Linked DNA regions of Homo sapiens: region 1 is linked to region 2. The links come from fine-mapping of genetic effects on gene expression. Tissue or cell type: whole blood. Region 2 holds a variant in brackets; the other region holds the start of a gene. All regions are shown on one strand. Distances are from middle to middle.

What was found. PIP is the estimated chance that this variant, and not a neighbour inherited with it, causes the effect.
Region 1: it holds the start of LIME1, and the variant in region 2 is fine-mapped to the expression of LIME1 in whole blood (INTERVAL, PIP above 0.99).

Annotation. Positions count from the first base shown.
Region 1 is chr20:63,735,172-63,737,786 of GRCh38, reverse strand. LIME1 (Lck interacting transmembrane adaptor 1) reads right to left here and starts at 1,123. Exons shown (of 6, transcript NM_017806.4): 1 at 1,075-1,123; 2 at 140-254. The coding sequence starts at 237. ZGPAT (zinc finger CCCH-type and G-patch domain containing) reads right to left here. Exons shown (of 7, transcript NM_181485.3): 6 at 2,223-2,615; 7 at 1,645-2,006. The coding sequence ends at 1,868. RefSeq lists a silencer at 1-87 and enhancers at 22-938, 1,518-1,697.
Region 2 is chr20:63,696,774-63,699,504 of GRCh38, reverse strand. It overlaps TNFRSF6B (TNF receptor superfamily member 6b), which reads right to left. Exons shown (of 3, transcript NM_003823.4): 1 at 2,314-2,731; 2 at 1,983-2,177; 3 at 821-1,225. The coding sequence ends at 942. It overlaps ARFRP1 (ARF related protein 1), which reads left to right. Exons shown (of 8, transcript NM_001267547.3): 8 at 1-858. RTEL1-TNFRSF6B (RTEL1-TNFRSF6B readthrough (NMD candidate)) reads right to left here. Exons shown (of 38, transcript NR_037882.1): 36 at 2,314-2,731; 37 at 1,983-2,177; 38 at 807-1,225. Among named protein-coding and RNA genes, the nearest start is that of TNFRSF6B, 1.5 kb to the right of the region's middle. RefSeq lists enhancers at 14-63, 134-313, 554-603, 1,699-1,748. The variant G/A (reference allele first, on the strand shown) is at 1,279.

The sequences.
Region 1 (2,615 bases), 38 kb before region 2:
CGTCAGCCTCGGGTCCAAGGCCCGGTGCAGGCGCGCGTGCCGAGCTGGGTGCGCGGACCTGCCTCCAGCCCCTTCCCGCGCTGGGCTGTGAATGGCAGCCGCAGCGAGGCCCCAGACAGAACGCGGCTGAGGGACCTACCTGCGGCAGGCTGTGCACAGCGCCCACAGCGAGAGGAGCAGGGCGCAGCACCCTAGAACCCAGAGGGCAGGAGGGGCCCAGGACACTGGCAGCCCCATCCTGTGAAGCCGAGGCCCTGGGGACAGAAGAAAGGGGCGCTGGGGGCTGGCCAAGGGGACCTGGCGCCACCTGGCAGCCCCAAATCTGCACCTCCCGCGGCTGCGGGGCTCCTGCGTCTCCCGTTCCAGCTCTGACTCAGCACAGGAAGCCCCAAGGCCTGGCAGTCCCTCCCTCCCAGAGGTGCCCACCTTCTGGCGGGGGCTCCCGGTGAGGTGAACTAGGGCTGCTCTGCCTGGCCCCTCCGTGTCCCTGCGGGTGACCACGGTAACACCCAGCACGGCCGTGAGGAGGGGCAAGACAGCTGTGGCCACCATAGCCCAGATAGTAACCAGCATCGGGGGAGCCCCTGGGTGTGCGCCACAGGCCACAGACTCCACCTGCAGCCACCCTCTGCCCAGACATGGTCTCCTGTGTCAGGTAGTGCCCCCAAGCCGCTCGCTGCGGAGCCCAGAACTGGGAAGAGCTGGAGGCTGGTCAGCAGGAGGGACCCTGCACCCGGAGGAGCTGGAGGCTGGGTCAGCAGGCAGCAGCAGCTGCTGGGGGTGCTGATGCCCCCACCCCACTTCTCTCTGGCTCTTCTTGTCTGCCAGTGTCTCTGCCAGAGAGGATCTGTCCCCTTCTTGGGGATCTTAGCAGAACTTCTCGGGGTGGGGGATGCCTTACAAACAGCACAGTCCAGCAGCAGAGACAGAAGCTGGGGGGTGAGGGGTGGTCTCTGGAGTTTGGGGCCAGTCTGCTCAGACCCAGGGAGTGGGCTTCAGCCTGGCTGACTGACCCAGCTGCAGCCACATCCCAAGGCCTCCCAGACCCCAGCTGCCCCCCAGGAGGGCACTTACCAAGCCCACGGCCAGGGGTCCTCAGCTCTGTCTGGGGCAGGCCAGGAAGGTCTTTGTGCAGCCCTCGGCTGAGCTCCCCACCTCATCACTTCCTGCTCCTGTCGCCAAGCGCCTCCCCTGAGCCTCCCACCCTGGGCAGCAGCCACCACCGCAGCCTCACCCACCTGCTGCGCCCCGCCCGAAGCCTAGATGAAACGTGTGCGCCTCTAGCCCGCACTGTTCTGACAGCCTAACTCACAACCCCTCCACACACGAAGACGTGAGCAGAGCTGGCACAGAACCCCCAAACCCACAGGGCCAGGTCCGCCTGCCTCACCAAGAGTGCCCCACGTGGTGGGCCACAGTCCTCTCCCGCCCGTCTCGCCCGCTGGAGCAGCACTGAGCTCCACCCATCTGTGGGTGTCAGGCAGCCTGGCGGGCACCCTGGCCTCCGATCTGCCTTGGTCAGAGAAGGGTAAGAAGGGAGAATGCCGGCCTCCTAGGCCCCTCCAGCCCAGCCCGTCTCTCACCACAGCCCTGCACAGACCCTTCTCTCCCCAGAGACCCTGCAGCCAGCTGATCTCCACTGAATGACACTGTGATGAAATCACTTTAATGTCCTTGCCAAGGAAATGCCCAAGACACTGGCAGGTGGGCAAGTAAGTGTCCAGATGGGACCCCGCAGCTCTGTCTCCACTCAGCAGTGTCTGCACGCCCCAGGCCAGCAGGCCGGCCCCTCCTCGGGCAACACTGGTCTTCCTGAGGGCAGCCCGTGCTGGGGTCCCACGCTTCGTCCATAGTGCTTGTGGGGTCTCTAGAACTCAGTCATCTTCTTGTGGGTGTCTGCCTTCCTCTGCTCCTGCTGCAGGCCGGCTTCCTGAGCCCGGAGCTGCCCCAGCTGGCGCTGGGCTCCTGCCAGCTTCTCCTGCAGCTGGGCTGACGCCACGCTATGCCTGCGGAGGGGCTCACTAGTCAGCGTGGGGTCCTGGGCCATGCCACCAACCCCAGTCTGCCGTACCCACTGCCTGTGTGCCCGCTGCCCGTCCTCCAACATGCAGACCCCTCCTGGACTCAGCCCGCTATGCTTGGGTCAGGTGACCTCCAGCATGTATCCCGGGGGCAGGGCCACCCTGGGTCGCCCTTTGCCCTGAGCTGGGCCCCACACGTACCGGCCAGCGTTGCGGGCGAGAGCCTCCTGGATGCTCCTGATGTCCCGCTGGGTTCGCTCGATCTTCTCCTCAGTCTGGAAGAGCCGCAGGCTCAGGGCCCGCTTGGCACTCTTGCTGGCATGGTACATGTCCTTGCTCCTCCTCCCCGCTGGGGCCGCCCCGGCTTCTAGGGCCCCAGGAGCCTGACCTTGCAGCTTTTCATTGAGGAAGTCAAACACATTCCGAGGAGCTGGGCGGCCCCCAGGCCTGGCCCCTCTTCCCCGGCACCTGGGGGGCTTGTTGGTGCCAGCCTTGCCAACCCTGGTCTGCTTCTGCAGGGTCTCCACACACTGGTCCAGCGACTTCCCTCGAGGCAACACCACAGCATGGATGGGCTCCACCCGGCCTTCCGCG
Region 2 (2,731 bases):
TCCATCCCTTCCCTCCTGGAGGGTGGAGGCTCCTGGCTGTTGGACACGGTGATGGTGTTACTGGGCTGCTCAGGGGCTGGTGGGCAGGTGAGGGGCTCCCCAGGTGGGCCTGGAGAGTCCAGGCACTCCCTTCCTGCGGATGTGGGAAGGACATGGGGTCCTGGGAGGAGCTGCTGGGAAGGGGCATGAGTCAGGGTGGGGGTGGCGCAGCAGCTGCGGGGCTGTGACTCACAGGAGTCGGGCCCTGGAAGTCCCCGCGTCCTCTCCAGGGGACCCTGTGTGTGTTCTGCAGGTTGGTTCCCAGGACCTGGGGGGGACCTCCAGCCCCGGGAACCTGGCCGTGCTGGGGAGGCGAGTGGCTGGTGCAGCCCCCCGGTTGCTCTGGGTGCATCGGGAGGCTTCAGAGCCTGCCCCAGAGAGGGAGAAGCTTCACTTCCCGGAAAGCATGGGAGGCCTGGAGGAGGTCTTTGGCAGGTCCCCTCTCGGGAAATCCCCTGTGAGTTGGGAGTGGGAGGAATTCATAAGTGGGGGGTTAGTGTGGGCCCCGGCGACTAGGGCTGGCCTGAGCCCCATCCTGTTCTTCCAGCAATGATACCCTCCCAGGCCCTGACCCTCGCTGAGCTTCAGGGGCCCCTGCCACGTGCCACAGCCACTGGGGGCAGAGGTGGCACTCCCCACTGATCCTCCCAGGGAGGGTCTGTCTGAGGTAGGGGAAGCCCCGGGCAGCAGTTCTGATGGCAGGCAGCCTGAGGGATCTGGGCACAGCGGGCGGCTCAGGTGTCCCCGGCTGCCCTCCCAGTAGCTGTGCAACTACAACCAGTTTTATGAAAAAGCTTTATAAAAATAAGCTTTAAGAAACCTCATTTCTTCTATTTAAAAAAAAGCCTCTTTCAGTGCAAGTGGGGTGCCAAGGATGTAGAATAAATAAGAGGGGGCCAGGATCAGTGCACAGGGAGGAAGCGCTCACGGACGCTCCGCTCCAGCCCGGGCATCCTGGCCACGCGCAGCGCCTGCAGCAGCCGCACCAGCAGCGCCCCGTCCTGCGCCCCCAGGAGCTCCGTGAGCCGCCGACGCAGCTTCAGCTGCAAGGCCGCGCGGCCCGCCCTTGGTGTCGGACCCCAGCCCTCCGGGGCCTCGAGGGCCTGCAGCAGCCGCTGCAGCCTCTTGATGGAGATGTCCTGGAAAGCCACAAAGTCGATGACGGCACGCTCACACTCCTCAGCTCCTGCAGTGGGGTGGGGAGGCAGCGGTCCGATCATTTCACCCACACACACTGGC[G/A]GGGGCTGCCAGGTACCCTGCTTTCTGGGCCCCACTCGGGGGGTTTGCAGGAGAGAGAAATCCCTGTGCAGTGAGCCGTGCTGGAGAGGGCAGTGCAACGATGGGGACTGGAGAAGGGGCAGGAGCCTTCGGTCAGAGAGCTGGAGCAAAGGCCTAGGGGGCAGGAGCGGCCACTCGGACCTTGGCTGCAAGAGGCAAGGGGGCCCAGGCAAGGGCTTGGGGCTCCTGGGCCATCGGAAGGGGCGAGTTGGGACCTGCAGATGGACCGGACCTGACTTGATGTTAAGGGGGTCACTTCCCCCTGTGACTTCTCAACAGTGGTTAACATTGGGCCTCGGTTTCCCCATGTCAGAGGAGGCAGCCACCTTCCTCTCAGGCAGTTAGGAGAGTTACCATCAGGCCTCGGTTTCCCCGTGTCAGAGGAGCCAGCCACCTTCCCCTCGGGCAGTTAGGAGATTGCTGCCCACTTTCCCAGAGCTCCCCAGGGGAGGCTGTGCCCTGGCTCAGATCCAAATTCTCAGCCACCCCTGAGAGGGCAGACTTGGTGGGGATCTAGTGGAGGGACCCCTGACCCCTCAAATCCACTGTGGCCCCTTCCCAGAGCCAGCTGGCATGCCTCAGGCTAGATGCACGTGCAGGGGCAGGAGTGAGGGCACAAGTGGGCCTGGCCTGCAGTGTGCTGCCCCCTCAGGCCTCTGGCTCACCTGGTACCCTGGTGCTGAGGGGGAAGCCAGTGCAGCTGGTGCACAGGGTGTCATGGGAGGAAGAGCCTGGCACATTGAGGGCCAGGCCCAGGGCCGTGCAGTTGCGGTGGGGCTGGCACTGCTCTGAGCTGGAGCTGCTGGCTGAGAAGGTGCCTGGGGGGCACGGCTGGCACTGCGTGTTCTGGCTGGGGGTGCCTGCAGCCAGGAGGGAAGAACAGGGTCAGGGGAACTGGTGTCCTAGCTCAGGGTGCAAGGCTGGGACCAGCAACCTGACCCCTGCCACACCTCCGGCCACCACTCCTGGGGGCCCCTCCCCTCGCCCAGCTCTCACCCGGGGCAATCACGCCGGCACCAGGTGGACACGATGCGTGCTCCAAGCAGAAACCAGCGTGCGCGAAGAAGCCGGTGCGGCAGCGGCAGGCACGGTTGTGGGTGGCGTGGCAAGCCCGTGCCTCCTCCTCACGCTCCCCGCAGAGGACGTTGCAGTAGCGGCAGCGCTCTAGGTAGTTCCAGAACTGCGTGTAGTGGCGCGGTGGACACGGGCCACACGTCGTGGGGCTGTCTCGGCGGCACGGCCGCTGCACAAAGGTGCCTGGGGGGCACTGGGCGCACACCAGCCGCTCCCCTGTCTCTGCGTCCCGCCAGGGGTAGGTGGGTGTTTCTGCCACTCCGCGTACAGCCGGCACCGGCAGCAGGGCAGGCAGCGCCAACACCAGGCACAGCAGCGACAGGCCTGGCCCCTCCAGCGC